3 separate regions of the Homo sapiens genome follow, and all the other regions are linked to region 1. The links come from fine-mapping of genetic effects on gene expression. Tissue or cell type: whole blood. Region 1 holds a variant in brackets; each other region holds the start of a gene. All regions are shown on one strand. Distances are from middle to middle.

Evidence for each region. PIP is the estimated chance that this variant, and not a neighbour inherited with it, causes the effect.
Region 2: ARMC7 starts here. The variant in region 1 is fine-mapped to the expression of ARMC7 in whole blood (TOPMed, PIP above 0.99).
Region 3: it holds the start of KCTD2, and the variant in region 1 is fine-mapped to the expression of KCTD2 in whole blood (TOPMed, PIP above 0.99).

What each region holds. Positions count from the first base shown.
Region 1 is chr17:75,280,418-75,288,518 of GRCh38, forward strand. It overlaps SLC25A19 (solute carrier family 25 member 19), which reads right to left. Exons shown (of 8, transcript NM_001126121.2): 2 at 8,085-8,101; 3 at 6,216-6,385; 4 at 5,887-6,042; 5 at 3,006-3,176. The coding sequence starts at 6,347. Among named protein-coding and RNA genes, the nearest start is that of SLC25A19, 5.0 kb to the right of the region's middle. The variant C/A (reference allele first, on the strand shown) is at 4,342.
Region 2 is chr17:75,105,523-75,113,614 of GRCh38, forward strand. ARMC7 (armadillo repeat containing 7) reads left to right here and starts at 4,447. Exons shown (of 3, transcript NM_024585.4): 1 at 4,447-4,857; 2 at 4,941-5,084. The coding sequence starts at 4,767. SLC16A5 (solute carrier family 16 member 5) reads left to right here. Exons shown (of 7, transcript NM_004695.4): 7 at 358-640. The coding sequence ends at 511. RefSeq lists an enhancer at 1-168 and a silencer at 4,438-4,517.
Region 3 is chr17:75,044,125-75,052,216 of GRCh38, forward strand. KCTD2 (potassium channel tetramerization domain containing 2) reads left to right here and starts at 3,101. Exons shown (of 6, transcript NM_015353.3): 1 at 3,101-3,465; 2 at 5,096-5,204. The coding sequence starts at 3,127. ATP5PD (ATP synthase peripheral stalk subunit d) reads right to left here and starts at 2,845. Exons shown (of 6, transcript NM_006356.3): 1 at 2,801-2,845. RefSeq lists enhancers at 2,312-2,381, 2,320-2,905, 2,790-3,084 and a silencer at 2,782-3,211.

The DNA.
Region 1 (8,101 bases):
CCAGCACTTTGGGAGGCTCAGGTGGGCGGATCACTTGAGGCCAGCAGTTCCAGACCAGCCTGGCCAACATGTCAAAATCCCATCTCTACTAAAAATATAAAAATTAGCCAGGCATGGCCAGGCGCGGTGGCTCACGCCTGTAATCTTAGCACTTTGGGAGGCAGAGATGGGTGGATCACAAGGTCAGGAGTTCAAGACCAGCCTGGCCAACATGGCAAAACCCCGTCTCTACTAAAAATACAAAAATTAGCCAGGCGCGGTGGTGGGCGCCTGTAATCCCAACTACTTGGGAGGCTGAGGCGGGAGAATCACTTAAAACTGGGGGTGGAGCTTGCAGCCTCAGCGACAGAGTGAGACTTCATCTGAAAAAAAAATTAGCTGGGCATGGTAGCGGACCTGTAGTCCCAGCTGCTTGGGAGGCTGAGGCATGAGAATCACTTGAATCTGGGAGGCGGTCACAGTGAGCTGAGATTGTGCCTCCAGACTGGGCGACAGAGCCATACTCCGTCTCAAAAACAAACAAACAACAACCAAAAAAAAAAAAAAAAACCAGGAGTTCAAGACCAGCCTGAGCCTGAGCAACATAATGAGACCCTGCCCCTACAAAAAATAAAAAAATAAAAAATTAGTCAGGTGTGATGGCACACACCTGTGGTCTTAGCTACTTGAGAGGTTGAGGCAGGAAGATTGCTTGAGCCCAGGAGTTCGAAGCTGCAGCAAGCTATTGCAGCCATTGTACTCCAGCCTGGGTGACAGATCAAGACCCTGTCTCAAAAAATATATATAAATAATAACAATAAAATTATTCTTTCTTGGTTGAGAACACACAGACACACATACATATGATGCTATTCTTAAATATGTCCAGGAAACAGAGATCATGGTGGGGAGGTCTATTTCAGGATTTAATCCCTTGTTTTCACTCAGTAAATTCTTCCTCGAGTCTATCCCATTTCCACCAGCCCATTCTTTGTGGAAACCAAAGACACTCGCAATTGGCCGGGCGTGGTGGCTCATGCCTGGAATCCCAGCACTTTGGGAGACAGAGGCCAGGGGATCACCTGAAGTCAAGAGTTTGAGACCAGCCTGGCCGACATGGTGAAACCCTGTCTCTACGAAAAATATAAAAATTAGCCGGACATGGCATCACGTGCCTGTAATCCCAGCTACTCAGGAGGCTGAGACAGGAGAATCGCTTGAACCCAGGAGGCAGAGGTTACAGTGAGCTGAGATTGCGCCACTGCACTCTAGCCTGAGCAACAAAGTGAGACTGTCTCAAAAAACCAACCAACCAAACAAACAAAAAAACAAAGACGCTCTCATAATAATCCAGCAATAAATTCTCAAGTGGGCAGTCCTTGATCCAGCCCACTGCTGGGTAATTATTTGTTCTGTTTCATAGCAGTAGGTTCTGTCTTCCAGGGAGGCTGTGAGCTCCTTTGAGGCAGGGACATAGAGCACCCCGCACAGTGCTGCCCACAGTCATGGGTTTTACAAACTGACTGCCAGACAAACTGAAAACCCGAACCTCTCCCAGCTTTGCTTTCTGCAAGGACAAGAACTCAACCTCTGCCGAGTGCGGTGGCTCATGCCTGTAATCCCAGCATTTTGGGAGGCCGAGGCGGGCAGACGGCTTGAGCTCAAGAGTTCAAGACCAGACTGGGCAACATGACGAAACCCCGTCTCTAAAAAAATACAAAACTCAGCCAGGTGTAGTCTCAGCTACCGGGGAGGCTGAGGCAGAAGGATCACTTGATCCCAGGAGGTCGAGGCTTCAGTGAGCAGTGATCATGCCACTGCACTGCAGCCTAGGCAACAAAACAAGACACTGTCTCAAAAAATATATATATAGGCCAGGTGCGGTGGCTCACGCCTGTAATCCTAGCACTTTGGGAGGCCGAGGCGGGTGGATCACCTGAGATCAGGAGTTCAAGACCAGCCTGCTAACATGGCGAAACTCTGTCTCTACTAAAAGTACAAAAAATAGCTGGGCATGATGGCAGGCGCCTGTAATCCCAGCTACTGGGAGGCGGAGGCAGGAGAACTGCTTGAAATCAGGAGGCAGAGGTTGCAGTGAGCCGAGATCTGGCCATTGCATTCCAGCCTGGGCAATAAGAGCGAGACTCCGTCTCTTGAAAAAAATAAAAATAAAAATAGGTCGGGCACGGTGGCTCACGCCTGTAATCCCAGTACTTTGGGAGGCCGAGGCAGGCGGATCACGAGGTCAGGAGATCGAGACCATCCTGTGACTGGTGAAACCCTGTCTCTACTAAAAATACAAAAAATTAGCTGGGCGTGGTGGCGGGCACCTGTAGTCCCAGCTACTCGGGAGGCTGAGGAGGGAGAATGGCGTGAACCCAGGAGGCGGAGCTTGCAGTAGCCGAGACTGTGCCACTGCACTCCAGCCCGGGCGACAGAGTGAGACTCTGTCTCAAAAAAAATAAATAAATAACTAAAAATAAAAATAAAAATAAAAATCATATATTTAAAAAAAACATGCTTATCAAATAAAAGAAAAAAATAGATCGCACCACTGCACTCCAGCCTGGCAACAGAGCGAGACTCTGTCTCAAAATAAATAAATAAATAAATAAAAAATAGGCCGGGCGCAGTGGCTCATGCCTGTAATCCTAGCACTTTGGGAGGCCGAGGCGGGCGGATCGTGAGGTCAGGAGATCGAGACCATCCTGGCTAACATGGTGAAACCCCGTCTCTACTAAAAATACAAAAAAAATTAGCCAGGCGTGGTGGCGGGTGCCTGTAATCCCAGCTACTCGGGAGGCTGAGGCAGGAGAATCGCTTGAACTCGGGAGGTGGAGCTTGCAGTAAGCCAAGATCGCACCACTGCACTCCAGCCTGCATGACAGAGCGAGATTCTGTCTCAAACAAAACAAAACAGAACAAAACAAAAATAAATAAATAAATAAATAAAAAATAAAGAATGCTACCCCTGTGACAACACCTTCCTTATTTGGGCTTCCCCGGTCTGGCTCCTGGCCACTCACCTTGGGCTCACCCTGAGCTGCAAAGCGGGTGCGCAGAACATCCACGGGGTGCACAGTGAGGGTGGCCATACAGGCAGCCAGGCCACCACATACAAAGTGCACTGAGAATTCCCGGGCGTCATACACGCTGCCTCTGTGGACCAGCTCCGTCAGCATTTCAAATGACAAGAACTGCAAGAGTAAGTGAAGAAGTCACCGACAGCCCAAAGGATGAGGGTGAGGACCAAATACTCCCCAAATACATCACCCGTGACCCGGCTGGGGCCCAGGTGGAGGGGCGAGGAAAAGGTCAGGAAATGTTCTTCTTGAGCAGTGACAGCATATGATAAATACAACATTCTACGCAAAACTCGGATGCCATTTGATACTTGAGTAGAGTCAGACACTCAAAGGGTTAAGAAGATATATGGGGGCCAGGTGCAGTGGCTCACACTTGTAATCCCAGCACTCTGGGGGGCCGAGGCGGGCAGATCACGAGGTCACAAGTTCGAGACCAGCCGGGTCAACATAGTGAAACCCTGTCTTTACTAAAAATACAAAAATTAGTCAGGCATGGTGGCGGGCACCTGTAGTCCCAGGTACTTGGGGGGCTGAGGCAGGAGAATCACTTGAACCCGGGAGGCAGAGCTGCACTGAGCCAAGATCATGCCACTGCGCTCTCCAGCCCGGGCGACAGAGCAAGACTCGGTCTCAAAAAAAAGACTGGGTGCAGTGGCCCACGCCTGTAATCCCAGCACTTTGGAAGGCCGAGGTGGGCAGATCATGAGGTCAGGAGTTGGAGACCAGCCTGGCCAATATGGTGGAACCCTGTCTCTACTAAAAATACAAAAATTAGCCAGGCATGGTGGCGTGGGCCTGTAACCCCAGCTACTTGGGAGGCTGAGGCAGAAGAATCGCCTGAACCCAGGAGGCGGAGGTTGCAGTGAGCTGAGATTGCGCCACTGCACTCCAGCCTGGGCAACAGAGTGAGACTCTGTCTCAAGAAAAAATAAAAAAGATACATGAGAACAATGTATATCAGAAAATGTCACTGGCTAACTTAGTTTTCTGAGAACTGGGGAAGACGGCCATGCTCTGATTCCTGCAGGGACCCCTTCAGTGCAGCTGGCGGCGGCACCTGGTGGCGGCACTGTTCGAGAATCATTCTTTTCTGGGGCAGATTCTTTTGGGAGCATGTTCCACAGGGTGACCCCCTTACATTCAGATCTTTCTTTTTTTTTTTTTTTTTTTTTTTTTAGGGACAAGAGTGTCTCTCTGTCACCCAGGCTGGAGTACAGTGGCACAAACACGGCTCACTGCAGCCTCAACCTCCTGGGCTCCAGTGATCCTCTCACCT[C/A]AGCTCCTCAAGTAGCTGGGATTACAGGCGCATGCCACCATGTCCAGCTAATTTTGGTATTTTTTGTAGAACCAGGGTTTCACTATGTTGCCAAGGCTGGTCTCAAACTCCTGAGCTCAAGCAATCTGCCCGCCTTGGGCTCCCAAAGGGCTGAGATTACACACATGAGCCACCGAGCTTGGCCCTGTTTTGCTTTTTGAGGCAAGGTCGTGCTCAGTTGCCCAGGCTGGAGTGCAGTGGCTCGATCACAGTTCACAGCAGCCTTGACTTCTCTAGCTCAAATTATTCTCCTGCCTCTGGAATAGCTGGGACGACAGGTGTGTACCACCATATCTGGCTAATTTATTTTTTATTTTTAGTAGAGAGGAGGTCTCCCTAATGTTGCCCAGGCTGGTCTCAAACTCCTGAGCTCAAGCCATCCTCCCACCTCAGCCTCCCAAAGTGATGGGATTACAGGTGTGAGCCACTATACCAGGGCTATGCTCAGATCTTCCTTCAGCCAACTGAAGATGGCCTGGCTTCTTTTCTTTTTTTGAGACAGGGTCTGGCTGTGTTGCCCAGGCTGAAGTGCAGTGGCATGATCGTGGCTCACTGCAGCCTCCGCCTCCCGGGCTCAGATGCTGGGATTACAGGTGTGAGCCACTGAGTCCAGCCCACGCCTGGCTTCTTGAGACTATCCTGTTGCTGTATTTATTCGTCATGCTGCAATATCTGTTTGCAGACAAGTGCAGAGACAGGATCGCAGGGCATGCCCAGCCAGTAAGCACCTGACTTGGGCGGTCACTGTGATGTCACAGGAAGAGTAGGAAGGGACATCTCTGGCACTAGCTGCCTAGGTGGGGGTCGTGGCTCTGCCATTTTCTAGCCAGTGGCTTTGGTTGGGTTAATTATGTAAGCTCTGTCCACCTCAGTCTTCTCATGCATGACATGGGAGGGACAACAGCCCCTACCTTAAGGACTGCTGTGACAGAGTGTATGTGAAGTGCTTCCAACAGGGGCCTGGCCCATGGTTTGCACTGTACAGGGCTGGTTCTTAAACACATCTACTGCATAAAATCACATGCTGTGCACTATGACTATACTAGTGCTCCACTGAACGAAGCATGAGTTCTAACCCTAGCCCCGCCATGTGCAGGCTGTGTGGCCTCGGACAGCTGACTTCTCCTCCCTGAGATCCACATGACAGCTACCCTGCCCTCCTCATGACGGTGTGGTGAAGTTCAGATGAACCACATATGTGAAGGTGGTATTTCAAAAACTGAAATGCATTAGTGCTGTCCTTCGCCAAGCCTCACAGAAGGCATGACATCAAATCGGTCTCCAAGATGCAACACCTAAGTCACACAGGATAGACGCAGGGACATGGCGGAGGGCAATGCCTACGGTACTGCTGGTCAGGAAGGCTCCCGGGTGAGGCAGGTGGGAAGCGTGGGGCCTGCCTCTTCCGTCCTGCCCTGCGCGGCATTCCTGCTTGCCTCACCCTCCCTCTGCTCCTCCACTGAGCAACGTGACCCCAGAGGTCTGGCCAGGTCCCTTGCCACCTACTTGGACAGCTCCATAGCCTATGGAGAGAATCTGAGCTGGGACGTGTCCTTTCCAGAAAGCTGTCGGACCCTCCTCCTGCAGAATCTGCCTAGAGGCCTGGAGGATGCCATGGTACTTTGCGCTGGGGTCACTGCGAGACAGGCGCTCATGCTGAAGCTAGGAATCAAAATAAAAAAGGTCAGGACAGTGGGGTGGGCTGGAATGTGAAGGGGAACTTTCAGAAAAGGCAAGCCCTTCATCTGGATAGAATTCCAAGTTTTAGGAACTGCTTTTGCAAGAAAGACTGAACTTGTCCTCCAGTCCATTGCATGGAAAAAGGGGAAGAGTACCTGGAAACGGATCTTGATGACGTCGAAGGGACTGATCAGCGCCCGAGTAACAAGTCCAGACACAGACCCAGCCACTGCCACCTGGAACTTGGTGTTATTCCTGCCATCTGGTTTGGGGTCATAGCCAACCATCCCTGCCTCTGGCCCACACAATGTCCATCAGTATCAAGCTAAATGCAAGAGATACGGAATAAACACCAGGCAAGTTTCTTATGGTCTCTGCTCAAATATCACCTCCTCAGAGCAGCCCTCCCTGACTAGACTGTCTAAAATAGCACTCACTTTTGGACTGGGCGCAGCGGTTCATGCCTGTATCCCAGCACTTTCGGAGGCCGAGGTGGGTGGATTGCTTGAGCTCAGGAGTTCAAGACCAGCCTGGGCAACACTGCAAAACCCCAACTCTACAAAAAATACAAAAATTTAAAAATAAAATAAAATAGCACTTGTTTTATTCCTCTTTACAGTACTTATTACTATGGCATATTTGTTTACTTTTTTAGAGACAGGGTCTCACTCTGTTGCCCAGGCTGGAATGCAGTGGTGCCATCATAACTCACCATAGCCTTGAACTCCTGGGCTCAAGTGATTCTCTTGCCTCAGCCTCCCAATTAGCTGTCACTTAACAGGTGCAGGCCTGGCTAAGTTTTTTATTTTTGTAGAGATAAGGTCTCAATGTTGCCCTGGCTGGTCTCGAACTCCTGGCCTCAAGTGATTCTCCTGCCTCAGCCTCCTGAATTGCTGAGATTACATGCATGAGCCACAGCGCCCGGCACGCCATGGGTTATTTATACAGTACATTTGTTTCTTGTCTCTCTCCCTGACTAGAATGTAAGCCCGTGGAAACACGACCTTGGTCTCATTTGTTCACTCGTAAATTTCCGGTTCCTGGAATAGAGCCCATCATGGTAAGTGCTTAATAATATTTGAGAATCGAATGAACAGGCTTGATAGGCAATTGTTGGTCCCAGAGATCAACTGGTTTTCCAAGACATCTGGCAACTTTATAGCAAACTCCTGCTCACTGAGTGAGCCCACTCAAGTGTAACGCTGAGGGACTGAAGGACGTGCAGGGCTGGAGAACAGGGATTGGGATTCTTTAACAATCCCCCACTGTCCAAAGGAAGAGCCCTGAGGCCCTGAGCCCCTTCACCTTTCCCTTTCCCCTCCTGCACACACCTCAGACCACCCCGGCACAGTGGGGCCATGCTACGCTAGCAAATGATGCTCCTGGCCAGGCACCGTGGCTCACGCCTGTAATCCCAGCACTTTGGGAGGCCGAGGCGGGTGGATCGCCTGAGGTCAGGAGTTCAAGACCAGTCTGGCCAACATGGTGAAACCCTGTCTCTAATAAAAATACAAAAATTATCTGGGTGTCGTGGTGGGCGCCTGTAATCCCAGTTACTTGGGAGGCTGAGGAGGGAGAATCACGTGAGCCTGGGAGGCAGAGGTTGCAGTGAGCTGAAATCACGCCATTGCACTCCAGCCTGGGCTACAGAGTGAGACTCCGTCTCAAAAACAAAAAAACAAAACAAAACAAAAAAGAAAATGACGCTCCTGGGCTCCCCTGACTCAGACCTACTGACCTCTTCAGCCTCACTCTGGACCACTCTTCCCCTTCCCTCATTTAACCAGAGTGGTCTGACTGCTTCTGCCCAGTTCCTGGAAAACTCGGGGAGCACTCCTATCAATTGCCTTGCCTCTACTCCTCCAGTTCCCTACGTCTGAAATACAGCCCCACTCTCAGCCCCTACTCACTTTTTCAAGGCTAGCTCCTCTCATCCACCAGAGCTCAGCTAAAAAGCATCCCTTCCAGGAGATGTACTTTTTTCCTTTTTTGTAAAAACAAAAAACAAAAACAGTAATACCTACATACGGTCTGTAGAGTT
Region 2 (8,092 bases), 170 kb before region 1:
TACACCTGTGCCTGTGACTGGCGGTCCAAGCTCCCCACACACACATCTTGCTGGTGCCTTTCCCTGAAGTCACCACCCAGGGGCTGGCTGTCATCAGCCCATTCTTGTCCCAGCAGGGTACCGAGGGAATGATAAAACAGAATGTGTTTGAATTACACACAAAAATGTTCCCTGCAGCAGGTCATAAACTCTGTGAACTAATGAAGCTGACAAACAGAGCTGGAGTACGTTTCCCCTCACCCTTCCTTTCCTCCTAGCTCAGCAAGGGGTGCTCAGGTTCAGGATGTTGTTTGTTGATTCAGGCTCAACCAGGCTCCGCAAGAAAACCTTATCAGGAGATTTTATTTTCATGAACAGGTGCCAGTCTTCCCGCCAGCCACGTCCAGCTGGCGTCAATAAGCATCTTTGGGGATGTCCTGCCTCCTCCAGGACCAGCCATGAGTGGCTCTTATGGCCAAAGGCGGTACTGCAGGCCAAGCAAACGGCTCTGGGCTGGAATAGCCCTACCTGAGTGCCCTGTTTGACTCCGCCACTATCTGCCATGTGAGTTGGGCAAATTGTTGACCACCTCTGAGCCTTGAAAAAGTAGGAGGTTACTTTGTTAGAGCAAAATAATAAAATTTAATTTTAAAAAAGAAAACGTAGGAGGTTGGTTTGGATGAGCTAGTCTCTTCCGGTTGAAAAGTCTGACTCGGTGAGCATCCTGACGACTCCATTTCCTTCTGGCTCCCCACCCAGTCTTACACTTGGCTGCCATCAATACCACATGCTCTGAAGGGAGAGTGCTTGCATGGACTTTGCCAAATCCTGTCTGCTCCATCTCAGTTGAATGGAAAAGGAGGGAGGTGGGGCTGGTAGATAGGTGCTTTTGGTGCTAGTATCCACCAGGTTTTGTGTGCATCCCGTAATGAGCCCACTTCCTGAAAACATTTAAAGAAAAAAGATATCAGCTGGAGATGGCAGTGCGCACATGTAATCCCAGCTACTCGGGAGGTTGAGGTGGGAGGATCACTCAAACCTGGGAGTTTGAGGCCAGCCTGGGCAACACAGCAAGACCCTGTCTTTTTTTTAAAAAAAAAAAAAAAAAAAAGGCTGGGTGTGGTGGCTCACGCCTGTAATCCCAGCACTTTGAGAGGCCAAGATGGGTGGGTCACTAGAGGTCAGGAGTTCAAGACCAGCCTGGCCAACATGGCAAAACCCCAGCTCTACTAAAAATACAAAAATTAGCCAGGCGTGGTAGCAGTCGCCTGTAATCCCAGCTACTTGGGAGGCTGAGGCAGGAAATTTGCTTGAACTGGAGAGGAAGAGGTTGTGGTGAGCTGGGATCACGCCACTGCACTACAGCCTGGGTGATGGAATGAGACTCGTCTCAAAAAACAAACAAACAAAAAAAACACTTTGGGAGGTCAGAGCAGGAGGATCGCTTGAGACCAGGACTTCAAGACCAGCCTGGGCAACATAGAGACCCTGTCTCTACAGAAAAATTAAGGAAAGGGAAAAAAAAAAAGCCAAGTGTGGTGGATCATGCCTGTAATCCCAACACTTTGGAAGGCCAAGATGGGAGAATCACTTGAGAGGCCACCCTGGGCCACATAAGGAGACCTCCATCTCTACAAAAAATTTAAAACTTAGCTGGACATGGTGGCACAGGCCTGTAGTCCAAGCCACTCAGGAGGCAGAGGTGGGAGGATCCCTTGAGCCAAGAAGCTCAAGGTTGCAGTAAGCTGTGATCACACCACTGCACTCCAGCCTGGGTGACAGAGACCTTGTCCCCCCTTCCCAAAAAAAAAAAAGGTATCAATGAATGTTCTGCATAGGAAACTTTCATCTCACCTGCTCCTAGGCAAGAATAGCAATCATCTCTGGGCAGAATTCCTTCAATAAATATTTACTGAGTATCTACTGTGTGCCAGAGACTGGGCAGAGGTAAGACCTACCAAGGGCTGAGAATTCCACCCCAAGGAGGGCCCCTCCCTGAGGCCTTAAGAAGGGAGAAGACTGGCTGGGTGCGGTGGCTCATGCCTGTAATCCCAGCACTTTGGGAGGCTGAGACAGGTGGATCACGAGGTCAAGATATCGAGACCATCCTGGCCAACAAGGTGAAACCCCATCTCTGCTAAAAATACAAAAATTAGGCCGGGCGCAGTGGCTCACGCCTGTAATCCCAGCACTTTGGGAGGCCAAGGCGGGTGGATCACGAGGTCAGGAGATCGAGACCATCCTGGCTAACACGGTGAAACCTCGTCTCTATTAAAAATACAAACATTAGCCGGGCGTCGTGGCGGGTGCCTGTAGTCCCAGCTATTCAGGAGGCTGAGGCAGGAGAATGGCGTGAACCTGGGAGGCGGAGCTTCCAGTGAGCTGAGATCGCACCACTGCACTCCAACCCGGGTGACAGAGCGAGACACTGTCTCAGAAAAAAAATACAAAAATTAGCTGGGTGCAGTGGTGCGTGCCTGTAATCCCAGCTACTCGGGAGGCTGAGGCAGGAGAATCACTTGAATCTGAGGCGGAGGTTGTAGTGAGCCGAGATCGCACCACTGTACTCCAGCCTGGCGACAGAGCGAGACTCCATCTCAAAAAGAAAAAAAGGGAGAAGACCAATGAGGGAAGATGGGGTGGCCCATCTGATTCAGCAATCCCCATCTAGCTGATTGCCTGCGAACCTCTAGAGAAGGTCTGGGGCAGTTCCTGGGCAGGGAGGGATGGAGCTTACTTCCATCCTCCCTGTTTCTGGGCTCCTATTTGCTGCTCTGTCCAGCAAGAGGCAGAGAAACCCCTTGGGCACCTAGGGGTAAGATGCACTTCCCAGGCTGCAGAGGCTCCCAAGAGAAGCCAAAGGGCTTTGGTGAGGGTCCTGGGGCCTAGGTACCCAGACTAAGTTAGAAACTCCTGCCTCAGAGGGTGTACATAGGGCAGGGGCTGACCACAAGGACCTGAAACCTCAGAGGTGAGGCCTGCTTCCAATGGGGCTGCAGCTGGCTGGAGTGTGACGGCCACTCTGCCTTCATCCGGGCCCAGGGCTTAAGATAATGGTCCTTGCCTTTGTCAGCCTAAATAACAGAGAGGCTCTCTCAAAGAAAATGATATCTATTTGGGCATAGGGCATTGCAATGGTAGTATCCATGCCATAGTAAACTATATGGGTATTCAGGGAGGTAAAGGAAGACAGGCTTTAAGGGAAAAAATAGGATTACATAATTGTTTTGAAATATTTATCCTTAGGTAGAAGGATTAATAACAAGGGTGACCGCTCAAGGTTGGACAAGCGGTTGCTGGGCAGATGGCCATTCAAAAGTATGTTTTGTGCAAGGTTGTGACGCCCTTTGTGCAAGGTTGTGGTTTTTGCAGAGTCTTTGTGATAGTTTTCATTATCAGGTATTTATGCACGAGAACCCTCTTGTCATGGGTTTCTTGGGCTGTGTCCGGGTTTTTTTGTTCTGTTTTTTAACACAAGTGACTCCATTTAGATTAACAACTTTTGCACTCTCAGGACACTCACAGCCTAAGCCACCTCTACCCCTACGTTGTCAAATGCGATGGGAGTGTGGCTAGACCACCTCCTTCCCTGGTGCTTTGTTTCCTGTAACCACGAGCAATCTATCACACACCCGCTTCCTGATAATCTCCGAGAAGGAATCGGCCGAAGGGCTTCAGCATCCAGAAAGCCCCGAAAGCGCCACAATCAAGGCTCCTCCTCGGGCTCCCCCGTGCTGCCCCGGGCGCGCGCCATCCACCCGGCTGACAAAAAGCACCAGGACATGACCCAGTACCCTTTGATTTCTGTCCAGAGGTGGCGGACCCACCTCGGGGCTGGGATGGAGGGCGGGTCGGGGTCGCTAGGCTTTTTGCAAAAGGGGCAAAGGACTGATGGGGGGCGTAAGGAGCTGACGCCCGCGCTCCAAAGGGGCGTCCTGGTCAAGGAGGATGGGCCGCGCCCCCGCCAGCCGTGGGGACCCTGGAGGTGCTTCTGCCTCGACGTCCTCCAACATGGGTGCTGCCAGACTCTGCTGCGCTCCTGAGTTGCTCCTGGCGGAATTCCAGCCACCCGACATGGGTGTCTCATTTTCGGCTTCTGGGCCATGTCGGGACGGCGGAGGACCCCGGGGGACCGGCGGGAGAGTGGGAAAGGTGGGGCGGGAAAGCCGAGCGAGGCCCTCACTCGCCCATCTGTTGGCGGGGGCGGCAAGTGGGTTTCTTTCTTGCGTTCAGATTTTGCAGTAATTTGCATCTGGACATGGGATACGGGAGGCCAGGCTGCTCCTCGCAGTACACCCACCCACGCCTGCACCTGCCTCAGCGAAGCCGCTCGCCGCTGGTTCCAGCACAGGCTAAAGAGCTTCGGCATCCAGAAAACCAGAAGCGCGCCGCGCACGCGCGCCAAGGAGTTCGGCGACGGCCCCGCCCCTTCGGGGGTAGGGACAGCGCGGCTTCCGCCGGGAGCCCGGAACCGAGCCCAGGAGCCGGGGACGGTGCGCCAGTGCCCCCTCCGCGAGCCCCAACCAGTAGACGGTTCCCTGTCTCCCGCGCCCCAATTTCGATTTTCAAACGCAACTCCTACAGGATTCTGAGACCCCGTCCCATCTCCCATATCCCATTTCCAGCTGCAAATTACTGCAGAATCTGAACCCAGGAAAGAAACCCATTTGCCGACCCCCTCTTCCCTCTCCAGACAGGTGGAGAGCGGGTGAGGGTCTCGCTCGGCTTTCCCCCTGCACCTTTCCCACCCTCCCGCCCGTCCCTGGGGGTCCTCCGTCACCGCGGCCATGGCCCAGAAGCCGAAGGTGGACCCCCACGTCGGGCGGCTGGGATACCTGCAGGCGCTGGTCACGGAATTCCAGGAGACCCAAAGCCAAGGTGAGAGCCACGGTGGGATCAGGTGGCAGGGTCCGCTGTGACCGCCGCCCGGACCTGGCTTCAGTGCCGCTTTCCCGTTGCAGACGCCAAGGAGCAAGTCCTCGCCAACCTCGCCAACTTCGCTTATGACCCCAGCAACTACGAGTATCTGCGGCAGCTGCAGGTCCTGGATTTATTTCTCGATTCGCTGTCGGAGGAGAATGAGACCCTGGTGGAGTTTGCTATTGGTAAGGGCGGGGCCCGTTCCCTAGATGCCTAAATGGGCCAGGGTGAGATAAGTGAATTAGAAGTGAGTCCTTGGGGCCGGGCGTGGTGGCTCACACCTGTAATCCCAGCAGTTTGGGAAGCTAAGGCGGGCGGATCACCTGAGGTCATGAGTTCGAGACCAGCCTGGCCCACATGGCGAAACCCCGTCTCGTACAAAAATTAGCTAGACGTGGTGGAGAGTGCCTGTAATCCCAGCTACTAGTGAGCCTGAGGCAGGAGAAGCTTGAACCCAGGAGGCAAATGTTGCAGTGAGCTGAGATCGTGCCACTGCACCACAGCCTCGGGGACAAGAGTGAGACCCCGTCTCAAAAAAAAAAAAAAAAAAAAAAAAGCCGCACACAGTGGTGTGCACCTGTAGGCCCAGCTACTCTGGAGACTGAAGCAGGAGGTATTGCTTGAGTCTGGGAGGCAGAGGCCGAAGTGAGCTGAGATTGTGCTACTGCACTCCAGCCTGGGCGACAGAGTGAGACCATGTCTCAAAAAAATATGTTTTAAAAAGAGCAGTTTTGTAGCCGGGCGCGGTGGCACACACCTGTAATACCAGCACCAGCACTTTGGGAGGCTGAGGTGGGCGGATCACCTGAGGTCAGGAGTTCAAGATCAGCCTGGCCAACATGGTGAAACCCCATCTCTAACTAAAAATACAAAAATTAGCCGGGCATGGTGGTGGGCGCCTGTAATCCCAGCTACTTGGGAGGCTGAGGCAGGAGAATCGCTTGAACCCGGTAGGCAGAGGTTGTAGTGAGCCAAGATGGCACCACCGCACCCCAGCCTGGGCAACAGTGAGACTCTGTCTCAAAAAAAAAAGCAATTTCAGGCGGGTGAGGTGGCTCACACCTTTAATCTCAGCACTTTGTGAGGCCGAAGCAGGGAGATCACTTGAGTTCCGGAGTTCAAGACCAGCCTGGGCAACATGACAAAACCCCATCTCTGCTTTAAAAAAAAAAAAAAAAAAATTAGTCTGGCGTGGTGTCCCAGCTACTCAGGAGGCTGAGGTGGGAGGATTGCTTAAGCCTGGGAGGTCAAGGCTGCAGTGAGCTGGGATTGGGCCACTGTACTCCAGCCTGGGTGACAAAACGAGAATCTGTCTCAAAAACAAAAATAACTCATATTTAGTGTTTTCATATCAAGAGAAGCAGAGATGGCTTGCAGTCTGTAACTTATGGCTTCTGTAGTTGTTATGATCTTAAGACCTATTGAGTTATTCACTGGGTAGATATTTATTGCGCGTGTACCGTATATGCAAGCTACTGCTCTAAATGCTGGAGTATGGTGAACAGCTTAGGGAAAGGTCTTTGCCCCTCAGGAGCTTACATTCTAGTAGGGGGGACAGGTGGTTAGCAAACAAAAAAGATGATGCTCAGAAGGAAGTAAATGGGGTGATGAGAGACAGCAGTGGAAGGTGGGGGTTACTTCAGTTTTGGCCATCATGAGAAAGGCATTTTAGCCGGGACACAGCATGGGCAAAGGCCTTAAAACAGGAAGGAGCCAGACGGAAGGCTGATGTGGGAGGATCGTTGCAGTGAAGTGGAGAATGGCACAAAAAGAGTTTAGAGAGTTCAGTGGCACCAGAGCTTGCAGGAGTTTAGATCTAGGCCGTGGGAAATAGTTTGAAGCAAACAAAATTTTGAGAACAAACAAAAATTCCTTTTTCAAGCAATGCAGTGCCCACCTGTAGTCCCAGATACTCAAGAGGATCGCTTGAGCCCAGGAATTTGAGGCTGTCGTGTGCTGTGATTGCACGATTGCACCTGTGAATAGCCACTGCACTGCAGCCTGGCCAACACGCGCGTAGTCACCTGGCTGAAGTCTTGTCAGGCTTCTCCACTGTAAAATTACTCTTTCTTTCCCCTCTTTACGTATGATACCCATTGGAAGGAAGTCACTACATAAATTATCTTAAATCTCTCTTTTTATTCTCTTTTTCTTTTTTTTTTTTTTTTTTTTGAGATAGGGTCTCACTCTGTCACTTAGGCTGGAGTGCAGTGGTGTGATCATAGCTCACCATAAACTTGAACTCCTGGGCTCAAGCAGTCTTCCTGCCTTAGCCTCCCGAGTAGCTGTGACTACAGGTGTGCACCACCATGCCCAGCTAATTTTTTTTTTTTTTAATTTTTTGTTGTGACAGGATCTCACTGTGTTGCCCAGACTGGTCTCGAACTCCTGGCCCCAAGAAATAAATCCCTTGTAACCCTAAACAGACCCTCATTTCATAACACTGATTCTCGAAGGCCCCAACCAGGAATGCAAATGTTCCCCCTTCCGGTTTGTCTCATTGCCTCTTTGTGGTTTCTTTATCCCCTTTATTTCCTATAATCCAGAAATTGGGTTGAATGTCTTGATAGGATCAAATAACACATTTTTTATTTTATTTTATTTTATTTTATTTTATTTTTTGAGATGGAGTCTTGCTCTGTCGCCCAGGCTGGAATGCGGTGGTGCAATCTCAGCTCACTGCAACCTCTGCCTCCTGGGTTCAGACAGTTCTCCTGCTTCAGCCTCCCGGGTATGGGATTATAGGCGCCCGCCACCACGCCCGGCTAATTTTTGTGTTTTTAGTAGAGACGGGGTTTCACCGTGTTGGCCAGGCTGGTCTCAAACTCCTGACCTCAGGTGATCCGCCCGCCTCAGCCTCCCAAAGTGCTGGGGTTACAGTCGTGAGCCACCACACCTGGCCCAACTAACACATTTTTAAAAATACTTTTTATTTATTTATTTTTTTTTTTGAGATGGAGTCTTGCTCTGTCGCCCAGGCTGGAGTGCAGTGGCGCGATCTCGGCTCACTGCAAGCTCCGCCTCCCGGGTTCACGCCATTCTCCTGCCTCAGCCTCCCAAGTAGCTGGGATTACAGGCGCCCCCCCACCAGGCCCGGCTAATTTTTTGTACTTTTAGTAGAGACGGGGTTTCACCGTGTTAGCCAGGATGGGCTCAATCTCCTGACCTCGTGATCTGCCCGCCTCGGCCTCCC
Region 3 (8,092 bases), 240 kb before region 1:
AGCGATTCTCCTGCCTCAGCCTCCGGAGTAGCTGGGATTACAGGCACCCACCACCACACCCAGCTAATTTTTGTATTTTTTTTTTTTTTTTTGAGACGGAGTCTCGCTCTGTCGCCCAGGCCGGACTGCGGACTGCAGTGGCGCAATCTCGGCTCACTGCAAACTCCGCTTCCCGGGTTCACGCCATTCTCCTGCCTCAGCCTCCCGAGTAGCTGGGACTACAGGCGCCCGCCACCGCGCCCGGCTAATTTTTTGTATTTTTAGTAGAGACGGGGTTTCACCTTGTTAGCCAGGATGGTCTCGATCTCCTGACCTCATGATCCACCCGCCTCGGCCTCCCAAAGTGCTGGGATTATAGGCGTGAGCCACCGCGCCCGGCCCTAATTTTTGTATTTTTAGTAGAGACAGGGTTTCTCCACGTTGGCCAGGATGGGCTGAAACTCCAGACCTCAGGTGATCCACCCACCTCAGCCTTGCAAAGTGCTGGAATTACAGGCATGAGCCACCGCGCCCGGCCTGCATTTTAAGAGGTATTCAACACATGTGAAAATGTGAGAAAAATACAGAAAACGACTACAGCCACTTAAAAAAAAAGTCAGAATATAGGAAAATAGTCCTCTTTAAGTAAGATCAGGGTCAGATATTAAAAGACTGCAAAGTCAAAAATCTCTATAAGCTTGGAGTGGAATGCAAGGGAGGCGGAAGCAGTCTTTCTCAGGATCTTCAAGAAAGTTGTCAAACACCTGTCCTGTCCTTCCTTTCTTTCTCAGGACAGCCTGTTTCCTGTTGTGGAGGGGAGGTGTTAAGGCAATTGGCATGTGATTTTAAAGTTACCAGGGAACCAAGCACCCTTACAGACTTTCCCAAACATCAGTGTATCGGGGAACTTGCCCCGATAGTCACATAGGTTCTTTTCTATTTTCCTAAGCGTCGACTGGCTTGACAGAGTACAAAAGAGAGAAATTTTAAAGCTGGGCGTCCGGGGGAGACATCACACGTTGGTAGGATCCGTGATGCCCCACAAGCCACAAAAACCAGCAAGTTTTTATTAGGGAGTTTCAAAAGGGGAGGGAGTATACGAATAGGTGTGGGTGACAGACATCAAGTACTTAACAGGGTAATAGAATATCACAAGGCAAGTGGAGGCAGGGTGAGATCACAAGACCACAGGACCAGAGCGAAATTAAAATTGCTAATGAAGTTTTGGGCACCATTGTCATTGATAACATCTTATCAGGAGACAGGGTTTTCAGATCAACCGGTCTGACCAAAATTTATTAGGTGGGAATTTCCTTTTCCTAATAAGCCTGGGATCGCTATGGGAGACTGGAGTTTATTTCACCCCTGCAGTCTCAACCATAAGAGACAGGTACGCCCCAGGGGGGCCAGTTCAGAGACCTACCCCTAGGTGCGCATTCTCTTTCTCAGGGATATCCCATGCTGAGAAAAAGAATTCAGCGATATTTCTCCCATTTGCTTTTGAAGGAAGAGAAATATGGCTCTGTTCTGCCCGGCTCACCGGCGGTCAGAGTTTAAGGTTCTCTCTTGTTCCCTGAACAATTGCTGTTATCCTGTTCTTTTTTCAGGGTGCCCACATTTCATATTGCTCAAACACACATGCTGTACAATTTTTGTAGTTAACACAATTATTACAGGGTCCTGGAACGATATACATCCTCAACTGACAGGATTAAGAGATTAAAGACAAGACAGGCATAGGAAATCAGAAGAGTATTGACTGGGGAAGTGATAAGTGTCCATGAAATCTCTACAATTTATGTTTAGAGATTGCAGTAAAGACAGGCATAAGAAATTACAAAAGTATTAATTTGGGGAACTAATAAATGTCCATAAAATCTTCACAATCCACGTTCTTCTGCCATGGTTTCAGCCGGTCTCTCTGTTTGGGGTCCCTGATTTCCCGCAACATCAGTGGAAAATGGAAGTCACAAATAACTTTGTGTGTGTGTGTGAGTGAGACGGAGTCTCGCACTGTCGCCTGGGCTGGAGTGTAGTGGCGTGGTCTCGGCTCACTGCAACCTCCGCCTCCCGGGTTCAAGCGATTCTCCTGCCTCAGCCTCCCGAGCAGCTGGGATTATAGGGGCCTTCCACCACGCCCAGCTAATTTTTTGTATTTTTAGTAGAGGCGGGGTTTCACTACGTTGGCCAGGCTGGTCTCGAACTCCTGACCTCGCGATTCGCCCGCCTTGGCCTCCTAAAATTCTGGGATTACAGGCGTGAGCCACCGCGCCCGGCGAAATTTTTTTTAATTCTTAAAAATCTATTGCTTAATCCCCAGCGCCTAGAACAGATCATGCGCATAGGAGGTGCTCAATGAATCTTTCTTGAATGAGTAACCGAACTCTGCACCCGAGGAGCCCTGAACGCTCTATACGTTCGAATCCTGGAAGCTGCCGAAGGGGAAGGGCGCAGCCCCGCAGCCAGCTGAGCGTCCCTCGGCAGGTTAACACTGTCTGCGTAATGTTTCCCCAGTCCCCCCACCAAACTATTGAAGTCTGCCGCGCTGGGAGCGGACTGCACGAGACACGGCTTGTGGCAGCGCCTACATCAGCGGCGCCTGGGACACAGCCGGGCCCCCCTGACCCCGCGCGCCAAGGAGGGCTGAGGAAGGGATCGCGGGGCGAGGAGCGGCAGCTACACAAGGGACACTCTGCCAGCGGGGCAAGCCGAGGGCCCAGCGTCCTTGACGGGGGCGTGACAAGGGTCGGCGTGAGGTTTGGAGAGGGCAGAGCAGAGGAGCCCTCCAGGGATCGGATCCAATGCCCCAAGCCCCACTCACCTTCACCGACCCTGGCTGCCCACGGTCCTCCGCAGCAAGTAACGGAAGTGGGTCACGGGAAGATCTTTCCTCAGCCAACCCCAAAGCCAAGGGGGTGGGCCTTGCTTCGCAGATCAGCCAATAGAGATGAGGGCTGGTTCCGGAAGTATCTTCCCGGGGGCGGGCACAGCGCCTCCCCCGCGCGGGTCCCCGGGCGCTGGTTGGGGGCGCTCCCGTCCCTCTCCCCTCTGCCCCACCCCCGCCGATGGGCCGGCCCGGCTCTCCCTGCCGAGAAATGGGCCGGCCCGGCTGCGCGCGGGCAGCAGCGGTGGCGGCGGCGGTCCAAGATGGCGGAACTGCAGCTGGACCCGGCGATGGCGGGGCTGGGAGGGGGCGGCGGGAGTGGGGTGGGCGACGGGGGTGGCCCAGTCCGCGGGCCCCCCAGCCCACGCCCGGCTGGCCCCACGCCCCGCGGGCACGGCCGCCCGGCTGCCGCCGTCGCGCAGCCGCTGGAGCCGGGTCCCGGACCACCCGAGCGGGCAGGGGGCGGCGGCGCGGCCCGCTGGGTCAGGCTGAACGTGGGAGGCACCTACTTCGTGACCACCAGACAGACCTTAGGCCGGGAGCCCAAGTCATTTCTCTGCCGCCTCTGCTGCCAGGAGGACCCGGAGCTGGACTCAGACAAGGTGTGCCCCGCCCTCGGGCGCGCCCCCGGGCCTTCGAACCCCCTGGTTTCTCGTAGATCGGTCCCCAGAGTCCTGAGACACGCTCCTCACAGGCAGCCCCCTCAGGCCGGGACCCCATCCTCCCCCTCCCTCCCACACTACTCGCAGGGGCCTCAGAGGGACCTCCCACTCCCCTTCTTCCATGCTGAGGCATACTCTGGCTTTCTCCCCGACCCCGCCCTTCGTTCTCTGAGACTCCTTCCCACACTGCGCCCACCTGCACCCACGAGAACGCACTCCACACCCCTTCTCCATATTCTCTGCCCCTGACATCCCACTGAGATCTGCATGAGTTTTCCCTGGCTCCTCTTCAGTCCCCCCACTGCCGGTGCCAGATGCATCCAGAACTGGGTCAGGGTTAGCTCAGGCATCCTTGTAGCTTTCTCAGACTCCCTCTCGGACCCCTCTGCCAAGTTGGGCTTCCACAGCTGCAGGAAGCGCTCCTTGTGATATCACACTGCTTTTCTATAGTCCTGGTCGCAGAACTTTTATCTGTTAACAGTCACTGGTTTAGGTCCATATTTAGATCAAATGCGTTTTTTGGAAAGAGGTTACTGTTTGCCGCTGCAAATCTAGGCTAAGACAGAAGGAAAATGAAAATTTTCCCGGGAAAATTTTGGGCAGGATGCATGGCTGCTAACCAAAGGGTTGAGAGGTGACAAGACACTTAAACCATTTCCAGTTTGAACTGTGTCAATTTCTTTTTAACTTTACGTATTCACCTTTAAGTTCTCAACTTAAAGGCACTGACCATAACTCACACCATCTTATATCCCATATAGCACTCAGCTGGTGACCTCAAAACAGAGCTGGAGTTGCGTAAACATTTGTTGTTTTCGTTTATTCCTCTTCTCTAAGAAATCTCAGATTGATGGAAACCTATCCTGCCCTAACTTTAAAGAGATTTCAAAACCCTTGCTTATAAAGGAATTATTTTTATCTACTCTATATCCTCCTTGTGGTAATAGAAGCCAGTTTCTTCTTGTTCCTTTTACTGTAAAGATGAGTAGGATTAAAGCTGCTCAGAGCCAAGTCCTGGCAGTACCGAGCTTCCTCTGGGCACAGAGCTGGGGTGTGTGAGATTACAGCTGGCAGTGCAAACTCCCACTGATGTTGGCCTTGAGCTCAGGAGCATTGCCAACTACACAGAGGTTTTCTTGGAATTAGGAATGCAGTTCAGAGGCAGTGGAAAAGTCAGAATGTCCATCTCAAGCAAAGATTTCAGTTACACAGCTACGGCATTTTCTCCCTTTCTTAATAACAAACACGCTACAGAAGAATGTTTGTCACTGTAATTATTGTCCAGGCAAAGATTGCAAATTCCAGCCAGTAAGTAAACGCCTAAATGAGTATGACTGTCTGTAACACCCTACCTAAGATGATCTTAATGTACAAGATACATAAAGCTATAGCTTTCTTACCAATAGTTTGTGACAAATGTGTAACAAAATTTGCCATCACTAAAGTCTTTTTTAGCTGATGGAATGAATTGTTGTCTTGGGGCGCTGACAAAGATGGTGAAATCCTGCCCTGCCTTTGTTTAAAATACTCCTCAAAGGTCCACAATGATACCCTTGTGTTTGGTTGGCAGGATGAGACAGGAGCCTATCTGATTGACAGGGACCCCACCTACTTTGGTCCTATCCTCAACTACCTCCGCCACGGGAAACTCATCATCACTAAGGAGTTGGCAGAAGAAGGTAAGCGCACTGTTTGCATTGGGGATTTTCAAAATGCAAGTAGAATCTTTAAAGTTGTTTTACAGATTTCAATTTTGTTTGACATTTTCATCAGGCGCATGTGCAGGTATAGTTTCAGGTTTATGAAACAGAGCAGAAACTACCAGTCTTGTCTGAGGGAGTCATGATTAAGGAAGCCTCCTTAGGCTTTGTTCAGCTTCCTGGGTGAGAAGGAAGATAGGTAGCTCCGCTTTGCAGATAACTTCAGGAGTTCTTTCCGAATCTCCAGAATTGTCACGATCCTTTTTTTACATTTGTTTGTGTGCTAGCAGTGAGTGTCTGTAGTCTGAAGAAGCAAGACATCTCTGACATTCAATTATTTATAGTTTTAATTTTGGTTTGAACTCACAGTTGTACAAAAATAATAAAGGCTTGGCCTCATTTCTTTTAAGACTCTGGCCTCATGCTTCCCTGTAAATGTTTGCAGCTGACCTAATTCATTCTCTAGTTCATTGTCAGGTGTATCATTACTTGCCTCATCTTTGTGGTTTGTAGGGCATTGGGACTATAAGTGGGTCTAGTCCACTTTCTACAAGGCTTGGCATGGTCCCACTGAAGGCATTCAGTTGTAAAGGGGACTGTCCCTAAATCCAGGGCACCCTGATCTGGGAGCTTTGGCTCTGAGTAAGAAAGCTTGTAATGGCTGTACTAGTTAATGAAGTGACTGTGAAACAACTCTGTTTCAGCTAGTAGAAAGAGGAATTGCTCTCTCTCTCTTTTTTTAAATGTCCCTTTTTAAACAATATTTCAAACGCATACAGAAGTAATGGGAATAGTACATACAGTGAATTCCTTGCATCCACTATCCAGCTTCAACAATTACCAACTCATGGGTGATCTTAATCTTATTTATTTTTCTTTTTTAATTTTTGTAAGTACCTAGTAGGTGTATATATTTATGGGGTACATGAGATTTTTCTTTTTTTTTTCTTCGCTCAGGCTGGAGTGCACTGGCACAATCTTGACTCACTGCAACCTCAGCCTCCTGGGTTCAAGCGATTCTCCTGCCTCAGCCTCCCAAGTAGCTGGGATTACAGGCGTGCACCACCATGCTTGACTAATTTTTTGTATTTTTAGTAGAGACAGGGTTTCACCATGTTGACCAGGCTGGTCTTGAACTCCTAACCTCAAGTGATCCACCTGCCTCAGCCTCCCAGAGTGCTGGGATTACAGGCCTGAGCCTCCGCGCCCGACCTGAGATGTTTGGATATAGGCATGCAGTGTGAAATAAGCACATCATGGAGAATGGGGTATCCATCCCCTCAAGCATTTATCCTTTGTGATACAAAAATTCAATTACCCTCTTTTAGTTAAGTATCTTTTCTAATGCCTTTAATTAAAAAAACTTTATTTTGAAGTAATTTAAAACTTCAAAATAAGCAAGAAAAGAGCAAGAATAACACAGAGAACTCCCTATATCCCAGATTAACCAATTTTCAATGTTATTTTTGTCATATTTGGGGTATGGGGAGATCTTTTTGTTGTTTTTTTAAGAGTCAGAGTCTATCTTATCTTGCCCAGGCTGGTCTCAAATGTCTGGCCTCACATGCTCCTCCTGCCTCAGCCTCCTGAGTAGCTGCGATTATAGGCATGAGCCATCATGCCCAGCTTTTTTTTTTTTTTTGAGACGGAGTCTTGCTCTGTTGCCCAGGCTGGAGTGCAGTGGCGCAATCTCGGCTCACTGCAAGCTCCACCTCCCAGGTTCACGTCATTCTCCTGCCTCAGCCTCCCGAGTAGCTGGGACTATAGGCGCCCACCACCACACCCAGTTAATTTTTTGTATTTTTAGTAGAGACAGGGTTTCACCATATTAGCCAGGATGGTCTCATCTCGATCTCCTGACCTTGTGATCTGCCTGCCTCAGCCTCCCAAAGTACTGGGATTACAGACATGAGCCACCGCGCCCGACCTTTTTTTTTTTTTTTTTTTTTTTTGGCGACAGAGTCTCCCTCTGTTGCCCAGGCTGGAGTGCAATGGCACTATCACAGCTCACTGCGACATCCACCTCCCGGGTTCAAGCGATTTTCCTGCCTCAGCCTCCTGAGTACCTGGGATTACAGGTGCATGCCACCACGCCTGGCTAATTTTTTTATTTTTGGTAGAGACGGGGGTTTCACCATGTTGGTCAGGCTGGTCTTGAACTCCTGACCTCGTGATCCACCCGCCTTGGCCTCCCGAAATGCTGCGATTACAGGCGTGAGCCACCATGCCCGACCTTTTTTTTTTTTAAATCATATTTGCATTGTCCTTCATTCTCTATTTCCCCCTCCCTACCCCCATCCTCTTGCCTCTCCCACCACAGTTATTTCTGAACTATTTGAGAATAGATTGCAGATTTCACCCCTTAATATTTGTATATATTTCCCAAGAACAAGGATACTGTTTTATGTAACCACAGACAGTACAGTTATCAAACTCAGGAAATTTAATACTGATGCTTTTATCTACAGCTTATATTGCAGTTTTGTCAGTTGTCCTAATAATGGCCTTTATAGCAAATTTATTCCTATAGGATCACACGTCTCATAGTTGCCCTAAGGCCTTTGAGTTCATTTAGCATGCAAGTCTTTAAATGGTTGCCTTTTATATTGTTCAAATGATTAGCATCCTATTAAGTTTGGCCCACATAAATTTGTACACACACCTCCACCCCCACCCCCAGTCCTTTTGAGGGCAGATTGGACAAAAATATCAAGTTCAGGAGGTGTCCAACATGACTAGTTCCAGGAACTAAGTGACATATGGGAAAAGTGTCCTGCAGCTAATGGGCAGGTGCCAGGTAGGGAAAGGAGGGTTGAAATGGAGTGAGCAGAACATACCCTGGCGTTTGACTAATTTATGTTGGAGAA